Linked DNA regions of Homo sapiens: region 2 is linked to region 1. Evidence: fine-mapped expression QTL. Tissue or cell type: spinal cord. Region 1 holds a variant in brackets; the other region holds the start of a gene. All regions are shown on one strand. Distances are between the middles of the regions.

Region 1 (5,398 bases):
GTCTTTTCAGAGTTAAAATATTAAAGAGATTTTCAAATGCAAATCATTTTAGTGCATTTGTTATTAAAGTGCAATATATTCCTTAAATCAAATTAGAAAGCAGAAAGGGAAAGTTCCTTTAATTCCAGACTCATAAAGATGCCAACATTTTCATGTCTATTATATCTTTTCTTGGTATAGTAGAACCACAAAACAACAAGTTTATTTGACTCTCAGTTTTACAAAGTTAAAAAGATTGATAATACCTAGAGTTCACAGTATGTGAGGAAAAGGGTACCCTGAGGACTATTGGTAAGAGTATGAATTGGTGTTACTCTTCAGAATGGCAACTTGCCAATATGTGTTAAATGTTAACAGCATTTATCTAGCAATTTCAGCTTCTAAGAGTTTAATTAATAGAAACAATCAGAAAAAGACACAAAGATTGATGAATAAACTCTGTTGCATAAAGAGATGTTCATTGTTTATAACAGAAAAGTGGTTTTACAAATTAGAAATACATAGATATTCAAAAGTAAATTTTCTGCAAAAATATTACTATTAATACCATAGGTATTTATAATTTTGAGGATATCTGATATCCCCATCACAATAATCTATCACAACAACCCAAGGAAGGCTTTAATGAGCATAAGAATAATTAAGTCAATGATATCTCTGGTATCCATGGTATTTGAGCTGAGTCCACATCTGAAGGAGTTTAACTTTGAGATCTAATCTGAAATCTAAATAGAAGTTAGCATGAGAAAGGATAGGTGTTAAAATTCTGCTGGGCAGAGGGGCATGACCAATTAGATCTAAGGGATGAGAGGTAGCCTTGACTATTTAGGAAATAATAAATATCTTGGTATTCCTGAAACACGGTGTGGATACATGCCAGTGAGGGAAGATGCAGCTGGAGAAGTCAACAGCAATCATGTTACTTTCTGTTTCTTTCACCATCAGTAGTGATATCTTCATTTACTATTGTCTGTTTTTCACAATTTGAACATAGTAAAATGTTATTTTATGATTGGAATTAAGTGTTCACCATGCTATGTTTAGTAAGCTAGCTACCTTTTAATTTGTCAAACCATCTCTCTATCTACTTAAAAACCAACAGAGTCGTTGAAGCTAAGAGAGAAATGTCCAGAGGATTTTTTTTAGAGAAAAGAACACATGAAGCAACCCCTCTCTCAGTTGTGTGTCTATATAAGTGTTTGATGGTGTGATAGGTGGGTGGCTCTCCTCATATTTTTCCAAGTCTCACAGAGAGAGGTTGCTCTAGAATAGCAGCCCCCATGGCCGTGATCCAGCCATGTGTGATTAATTTCTAAATGTGGAAATCAAAGCCAGCTTTAATCAGTTTCAAAGCTATATAGAGATCCAATAGAAGGGTAACTCCAAATTAAAGTCTGTGCTTGAATATGGATTTTCTTTGAATAGTTGGATTTTCAAAGAATTTGTGAAATTTTTTAAGTTGATACTATATCTACTTGTGCTACATAATTTAAACATGAGATTCATTATTCCTTCCCCTGTGAAGCAAGGTTTTCAGGCACTAAGTTCTACAGAGGGATTCCCACACCCAAATTACAGGAAACTTACTCCTGTTTCTGCAATATATTTTCATTTCATTTAGAAGATAAATACAACTAATGAGAAAAAAGCAAAGCGACTTCTGTATGAAAAAAATAGGTAGGGAAATTTGTGATTTCACCATAAAATAATCATGGGATTTGTGTCAACATTTCCATTAATCAGGATTTCTGCAGAACCTGCAACGTGCTAAGTACTGAGGGTAGAGTAACCACCTAGGAAGTCAAAATCCCTGTTTCATGCCATTTATAATACCATTTACATTCAGTGAAGCAAGAAACAAATACGTATTATGTCAGGTTATCATAAATACTATTGATTACAATAAAAGGCAGGGTTGGAGGGTAGCAGATATGAGCATATGCCTGTGTGTGAATCAGTAGTGTGGGTGGCTTGTCTGATCATATGGCAGCTTGGTTGAGGCATGAGCAAAGAGGCAAAGCATGAAGATATCGAGGGAAAGGGCATTGCAGGCAAATGGGGCTGCAGGATAGTGAGGGAAGTCAGAGGTGATACAGGAGGAAGTGAAAGAGGTAGAAAGTGCCCCAACTCTATGAGGGCTCTGAGTTTGGATATGCTCCTAGCAGAAGAGTGGTATGATCTGATTAAATGATCACTCCCACTCCCCTGTGGAAGAGATCTGGTTTGACTGGTAGGAGAGCAGAAGCAGAGAGACAAGATAGGGTGGCAGTTAGGCAGAAAGTGACAGTAGCTTGGAATACAGTATTCATAATGGAGAGATACCAAGTGCAAGTATTGAAAAGACATTTGGGGTAGAACTAACCAGACTCTGCTATTGGAATAGATAAGGAAGGAATAAAAAGATGACACCTAGCATTTGGTATGAGAAACAAAGCTGCTGGCTTATTTAGGTGAGGAAGGCAGGAAGAAAGCAAAATAGAAGATAATTGAGCAGAGAATGTTATATAACAAACGTGATCATCTGAACACAGCTATTTAAAGTATCAGAAAGACTGTTTCCTAAAACACATGGATTAAGATACTATATATTGATCAGTTAAACTTAATCTGGAGACAGACTTTCAAAAAAAGAAACAAAGCAACAAAACAATGAAGGGATTTACATGTTTACATGGTTTTGAATCTTTCATTCAAATATGAAAAGTGAAAATCTTGCCACTGCATTCAGATATACAAAGTTTGTCCTGGATTATAAGGATGATATGG[A/G]CATTCACACCCTAATACCCCGAAGTGTATATATGTGATAGAGTTTGTTTGAAGATAATGTATACACTGAGAACTAGGACGAGTCAAATGAGCCCAGTTGCTCAATAATCCATAGAGACGTGTTAAAGCAGATTGAGCTGGACTGGATTCAGCACAGAAAGGGTTCCGGGAAGGAGATACCAGCCCTATAATGATCTACACATTTTTAGGAGTGGAGAAAGGAAGAAAATAAACATCTAGTAACCCTGTGATGATTGGTGCTTCTTGGTTTAGGAAGTGGCCGAGTTAAAAGGAGAAAGCTCCTGAGCTCAGCCTCTGGTCCTATTTATTGCGCTAGTTCAGGTGAGCTGATCCAGTTTCTTGCTAAGTCACTGAAAGGGTGGAGGAGATGAGCCATCAGGGATATCTAGAATTTTCTCTCCTTACCCTGATTAGACTTCATTCTGCCATCAGCATTCACGCTTTCTGTTGTAGGTTGACCTACATAGATACCACCTATACAGATTCCTTTTACAGGCATGTCCCATTCAACCTATAAATCTTTAGCTGCATTATTTTATTTTCTATTCTTTTTAATTAACACCATATATTTCTTAATTTTGGTTATAAAAAATTTACATTTCCTTCTGATACTTAGGAAAACTCAAGCCTGGGAAATAGGCAAAGAAATACATTTATAGATATATACATATATTTTTTTTCATTCTCAAGTTTTCCAAATAGATTTATATTAGCTTTCTGTTTGATCCTGAACTTCTGAGTCCTTCTGGCATTTAACAGAATAACCTGATAGACACAGAAGAAGCTACCATATTTTGCTTTAAACAATTTTTTCTACATCTGACATGGATAGATGGTTTACTATTTGTGAAGAAGAAAAATGTGTCTGTACATTAAATTTTCTAAATTAATGCTATTACACACAATGTGTAACAAATACTGATAATCTGTTAAACCAGGCATGTTTAGAAACCCTATTAAACCTAAAAGAAAGAACTAAATTTATTTATGAGACAATTCACAAAGTAAAAGCATTTCTTTAAATCTGAAATGTAATTGATTGAGAATGAGGGTTTTTGTATGTGCTAAATAATTAGGCATTTAATACATAGTTTAATTCATTAATATTTATTTTAAAATATTAATTTAACTCTAGGTAAGTAGGTATAGGACATTTATAATAATAACATTAATGTGGAAGACTAATAAATAATATAGAGTCATTAGAGCCTTGAGATGGTTGTTAGTGTCTTATATTCCTGGCACAGCAAAATTTCTTTCAAAATTAATACAATTTAAAGACAGTTCTTTAAAATTTATAGCTTTGCAAATTGAGTTGACATTAGTTATCTGTATGGTTGTGCATATATAAAGCATATTTGCAACTTTTTATCATTGGTGACCAGAGTGTGGTGGATTCGGTTAATTAGAAATCCACATTAATATACCCTCTTTTTAGTGTATTTTGACTCAGTCTTTACTTGTCCTCAAGATAAATGGTATTGACTGATTCCCGTGGTTCACTTAATAGAACAGGCAGAACTCCATTTGTATTCATTATGGTCGGTCTATATTAATCATTCCATTTCTTACCTAAAGCTATGTCAGGACATATTTTCCAATTCATGATTTCTGCCTGATTTTTCACTAAATTCTAGGCTTGCAGTTTAGTTAAAAAACAAAACTTAATTACAGTTTTGAAAAGCTTTTAGAAATGCCATTGGATCTTGAACTGATTAAACAAACCATTTTGTTATATCAATGTGTTGACAAACTATTAGGGACATAGTCATACTTACTGTTTTTGCTTTAATTTTAACTTACTATTAAATTAGATGAAATTTGAAGCAAGTTTTATTTTTGAAGTATTTACAAAGTTCAAGGTACTGTGCAAGGTACTGAAAGAAATACAAGAGAAGTAGAGCTTTAAGCATGTGTTTAGTGTAATGAAGACAACACAGGATTTAGTCGAAGTTGAGGACATTTTATTTTGAATTTCCAATGAATCTTGTGCCACATTTTTTACATCAACCTTGTCATCTATAGAATGAGAATACTAACAATTATTGATCTACTTACTTCAAATGTTTTGTGAAAATGAAATGATATTTATTCGTAAAGCATTGCATGCGTTACAAATCACAATATTTATATTCACCTAATGTGTTTCACAGAATACTAGTAATTCTATGAGTATAACCAAAAGTGATTCCTGGCCAAACATGTTTGGGAAATGCAGCATACTATCTCCATTCCACTTGGAGTGGCATGTGGCATATCAGCTTTTACAGGCTCAACTATTTTTTCTAGACTAGGATTCTCCACATTTCTTTAAGCGTACTTTATCATAAAATACTAATTAGTATTGCAAAAAATTATGGTAACATCGAAAATACTAAGGAAATTACACATTACGTAAGTGTTAGTTGTGCTTTTACTATCACAGTGTATGTGGTAGGAGTAACAATTTTAGTATATGAATAGCTACAGCACACAGCAGACAAACAATATAATAAAAGTAGTAAAAATTACATCATACCATCTCATAGAAAGGAAGAGTTAACCAAGGTTGTAAAAATCGAAGTAATTCTTCAAAATATTTGAATATCTAATCTGTATATAGGATTCTATT
Region 2 (5,398 bases), 680 kb before region 1:
ATACTAAGATGCCAAGACTGGGGAGAAGTGCATCCCTCCTACAGGGAGAGCAGCAAAAATCTGCAAAACACACACACCAATGTAATTTATTACATGATCATTTTCAATCTCTTTCAAATCTCAATGATTTCATTAATTTGATCTTCTCCACTCCACCTTCAGATGCTCTTTTTTCTTCAACTTTTGCCGTTTGTACTAATAATATTGCACATCTTACAATGCGCTAGGAGGGGTCAAAACATTTATTTTTTAAATGACAGATAGTAAACATTTTAGGATTCATATTGTAAGTCTCTGTGGCTACTACTTGACTCTGCCATTGTAATGCGAAAGCGGTCATGGACAATACATAAAGAAATCGGCACCACTGGGTTTCAATAAGTCTTTATTTACAAAAGCAGGTGGCTGGTCTTCTGTTGTAATTTGTAGACCCCTTAGCTAGAGCAATGACTGTCCAACCTGAATGTGCATTGGAAGCATCTGGAGGGATATTAAAACATAGATCGCAGTGTCCCATTCTCTTAAAGTTTCTGATTTGATAGGCTTGGGGAAGGGCTTGAGAACTTGTCTTTTCAACAAGTTCCAGGTGATGTTTTTGCTATTGGTCTGGGGACCACACATTGAGAACTCTCGACCTGTAGTACAAAGACAATGTTCTGTAGTCAATGACCTATTATTTGTGATCAAAAAAGGAATTTAAATAAATGAAAAATATACTATACAATTGAGGGAAAAGCAATGTTTATGATTCATTTTTTCATCAGCATATTCTTTTCTTCACAAAATCCAAGTGACCAAACTTAGCCAGAGACTGCCCTGAATGAAATATTTATTGGCTACATAAATGAGTTACAATAAAGTTAGCATTCACCTTGTTATAGTGACACAGCATACAGTGTGTAAATATTACATTTTTCCGTGCCTCCCTTCACGTGATAGACAGGTCACGAAATTGTTTTGTTTGTAAAGTCTCCCCAAGCCATTTCAATTTGTCACGATACACAAAGCTTGGCTACACCACCTACATCAACACATTTGTATTCAGTGAAACAAAAAGATTTCAGACAGTCCCAATAATTTTATTCTTTTTCAACACTAGCATTGAAAAGACATTGTTATTTGTGTACAGTCCTCCTGTAGGGAGACATATTTTTAAAACTGTATTGAGACTCTGTACTCTTGAGATTTTTTATAGAACAAAATTAAATGATTATCTGAAATATTGTGGCATTCTTGATGTCTGAATAATAAAATGACTTAGAGTCTTAGAAAATACACGATTCTTGGTGAATATATTTAAGCAAATGTTTATTCAATAGTTAGCACTTTAATAGTGAAACACAAAGAAAGATAATCATGGTTAAAGAATGCAAAGTTGTTTTGTGGCTTTTGGAGGAATAGGTTTTCAACAATAACACTTTTCATTGTAATATTTTATTGCCATTATAATATTCTATAAAGTTTTAGGTAATTATTAATAAATTCTCTCATATAAAGAGAAATTAACATTAATTTTTAAAATCTTACAATATTTAAACATGACAAAATTAAAACAGACCAGACTAATGTATATAGTCTTAGCAATCTTGAGTTCTTCATAGACTCTGAACCAAGTTAAATCAGCCTAGAAACAAGTAAGTGAATTAGGAGAAATTGCTTGAGCATGGTTATTGTCACCAATAAGCATCTGATTCTCGTTTAGACAATTAAACATTGAGACAGCTTCCAGGTAAACGTAATTAATTGTCTTGATTCACAAAAAAGACTCAAGCGACTTAGTGGAGGAAAGACTAATAGAACCCAAGATTTTTTCCTCCCAGGTGACAGTTCTCTGATATGCAATAGATCTCAAGCATTTAAAAAGCAAAGCTTCGGGTGCTAACCCAGGTGCTATCACTTTCTCAGCGCCTAATCTTCACCCGCTGCTAGGCTCGTTTAATGAGTCTTCTGAGAGCTAAGGAGTCCTCGGATTCATTCAAAGCATTCTACAATGAACGCTAGGGGGGAAAAAGAACAAACAAAATACATTTCAAATATAGGATTCAATTACTTTTCACTACTCAATGATGTGTCAAAGGCACGCTGTGTTTTGTTTTGAGGGCGGGGAGATGACAGGAGGGAATCCTGGGCCCCCATTGGCTCGCCGCTCGCCGCTGCAGTTGAGCTCCAGCCGCTCCGAGAGCATTATTGATCTGAAGGGTAAATGTGGAGGGAGCCACAGAGAGGGGTCCAGGCTTTTCTGAGAAGAGAGGCAGCCTCTTCCAGGAAGAAAGTGGTGTCTACTGGCTGCCCGGCCTGGAGAACCTTCTTTGAATGAAAACGGACAAAATGCAAAGCAGTGTGTTGGCACAGTGATTTGGAAAGGGGAAACAGAAGAGAAGGGTCTCACCTTCCGCGCAAGGCTGAGCTGTTGGCACCCTGCTGCGGCCGTCGGTGCTGCTGCTCCTGCAGCTGCCTTTTCTGCCATCAGGTAAGGCTTCCGTTTTTGATTGGGATTGCACCGCGTGTGTGTGATCGCTTCAGGGTGCATGCACAGAAATTCATACATGATTAATAAAGTGATGCCTAGCGTAGTGAGAAGCTGAACGAAGCTGCACACAGATCTGGCAGCTGAATTAGGAGCTTGTGCGTGGTTTTGCTTTGGGAAACTTCGGTAAGTTCTAAACAAGTCTCTGGTCCTCAGACCGTGAGAGGTTACGTGAAAAGAGGAAGGAAAGAAATGTTTTAACCTCAAATGCATCTTAGCATGGCTAAATTTTCAAATGAAAATAAGTAGGTGTGCTAGATGTCCAACTAGTTATTTTATAAATGGCTTTATAGATATCTGATTTTTACAACAAAATAATGAATGCTTTATTTTCAAAGAGCTTCCAGAGATGCCGACCCCCCTCACTCATTTCTCCACTGACGCTGAAATTTATGAACTTCATTCTTCATTTGAAAAATACCACTGTAAAACCATTTAAATGTTTTAATGGCCTGCCTCTCATGGTACAGCCATTTGAGTTTCCTACCACAAAACTAATCTGGGACAAATGAAAGAGATAGATTACCAGATCTGCTGTGGGTTATATAATATGCATTTCCAAATTATTTTAAGGTTATTGATCATTTGGTGATACATTTAACAAGGAGGAAATATGTGTGATATAGGACATAATGGCAAATCATTTTTCAAAAAAGACCTTCAGCATTTTATAAGTATTTTCTTATGTTTTTAACATCATTATTTGTTTTTTGCTACATCGGGACCACAGTGTATTTAGAACCTCTGTACTTCAGAGTACCTGATATCTCTTATACACATTTCTCTGTACTCTCTGGAGAGGGAACTGACATACTTCTGGCTGATTCTGCGACCATTTCATGATTCTCAATTTCTCATCGAGTATTTTGAAGCTCATTCACAAACTGCTCAGCTAGAAAATTACCTTACATACTGAGGGGGAAAAATTCAAATAGAGTAGATTCTGAAAATGTGTTTACAGTTTTAAATTACACTATACATGACCAAAACAGGAAAAATGCAACCATGCCAAGCAGGTATTAGTTTGCTTGATCTTCACTGTATACCTGAGCAGTTGTAAGGTTATAAAATAATATCCAGACACACAGCTGTCAAGAAATACTGAACCTCATCATTCAGTGGCAGCGCCTCATCATTAAATTATCCTAGACAATTTAAAATATCATCTTATATATTTTTATTATTATGTCAACAGGAGAATTCAACCGAGTAAGTTTTTATTATAAATAATTCCATGATTCTAGCAGAATGTCTCTTCAGAATTGAAAGGCAGATGGTTACTTTGCCCAAACCATGAACAGGTGATTGACGAATTGTTTTGGAGTGGTTGAGTGGATAGCCACATGCAAAACAGGGGCTTCCCTTTAACTAATTTAACTGATACATCGAGTTATTCAGCAACAATATTTAGAAACTGTCTCTCCACCTTCTATGAAAACTACTGAAGTAAAAAGAGGTTTTCAATTAAGTTGAAAATCGAATTCTAGAACATAACATATTTTTCTCTTAATAACTCTTACTTCAGAGACCAGTTTCCAAGATTAGCCCTGGCATTGTTAATCCCCTTCCCCATTAAAAAAATGTTTTTGATTTTCTGTGTTGTTCAGTTAATCTCTGCTTGCTGTGTTCTTAACTTCTACTGTGGTGTGCCATTTCCAAGCAGTAGGGGGAAGTTTTTAAGCCACGAATGCTTTTTTATTTTCTACTCAAACTCACTCCTCTCACTGATCTGCTTAGTGATGTGATCATTTTAGATAATTCCTACAAAAAAGAGAAAGCTGCATTATTGTTGGGGGGAGGGGGAGGGAGTGTGAGTCATTTCTTCCACACACGGAATGATATGTATTAAGTTCTTACTACAGTACAAACAGTGTTTAGTTTATGGGGAAGAAAATTTCTCTTAATGCCTCATGTGACGTACTTACACCTCATATAACTCTGTCCTTTGAGGATGGAGCATAAAACTGATCTCCTTAAATTGAGCATCTTTTGAACCTGATATTTTGGCAGAGCCTATTTCATGTAACAGTCTGGGATATAGGTTGAAATCAATCCTTTATCATTATGAGATTAATAAGGATATATGTCACTCTTGCCTCTTAAAATGCATTGTGATGAACATCAAATCAGTCTTGCCATGATAGGAGGATTCATAGAGTGATGGCTGTCTTTAAAAGTGAGCCATGTTTTCATGTAAAAATATAAAATCTAAGGGCTTGGGTAATAAAATGACCTACTAGCAGACTCTGTTGTAAATTTCTTCCTACTTCCAAAGGGAAAGAGTGATTACAGATGTCTCATTTAAAGTAAGATATTATCCTGTTCATCTTCTAGCAAATTATTGCTGTTTTAAAAGTAATTATGTCAGAAATTATCATGTGATCATTACATCAATAGAGAACATTTTGCTTATAATCTAGTACCAATTGATATTCCTATTTGTGTTAAATTATAGGTGGAAAATATTTATCCTTCCTGTTTAACAAATATTGCATTTTATTTTTATGAATAGGCTTAAATAGTACCCAAAAATACATTTAATTGTTAAATAAATGAAAATGTATTATTTTTACTGGGAGCTTTTTATTTTGCTAATACTGAATAACTGAACAATTTAAACTCAGAGCTTTTAAAAGCCTTTTAACTTTCAGCTTTAAGACAGTTGCAGCTTTTTCCTGACTTACTATGCTAGGAGGGTAATATATCATAACCAAACTTTAAAAGGAAAATGTGTGTGTGTGAATGTGTACTATGCTGCCTGTATTGAATATCAATAGTAGTTACTCAAAGTTGTTTTTAAGCATCTCATCATAAGATGATTAATAAAATGGAGTAAATAACTTTTTTACAACATATTAAGTGAGAGTTATG

Alleles and levels. Alleles are on the strand shown, and positions count from the first base shown. SD is a standard deviation of normalised expression in the study named.
In carriers of allele G in region 1, the expression in spinal cord of the gene that starts at base 2,184 in region 2 tends to be lower than with A alone (large effect, 0.87 SD a copy in GTEx).

Evidence for each region. PIP is the estimated chance that this variant, and not a neighbour inherited with it, causes the effect.
Region 2: CDH12 starts here. The variant in region 1 is the best candidate, but not a certain one, in a credible set for the expression of CDH12 in spinal cord (GTEx, PIP 0.74).

Annotation. Positions count from the first base shown.
Region 1 is chr5:22,173,537-22,178,934 of GRCh38, reverse strand. The region is part of intron 4 of CDH12 (cadherin 12); the gene reads left to right. Among named protein-coding and RNA genes, the nearest start is that of SNORA105A, 290 kb to the right of the region's middle. The variant A/G (reference allele first, on the strand shown) is at 2,767.
Region 2 is chr5:22,850,130-22,855,527 of GRCh38, reverse strand. It overlaps CDH12 (cadherin 12), which reads left to right and starts at 2,184. Exons shown (of 15, transcript NM_004061.5): 1 at 2,184-2,470.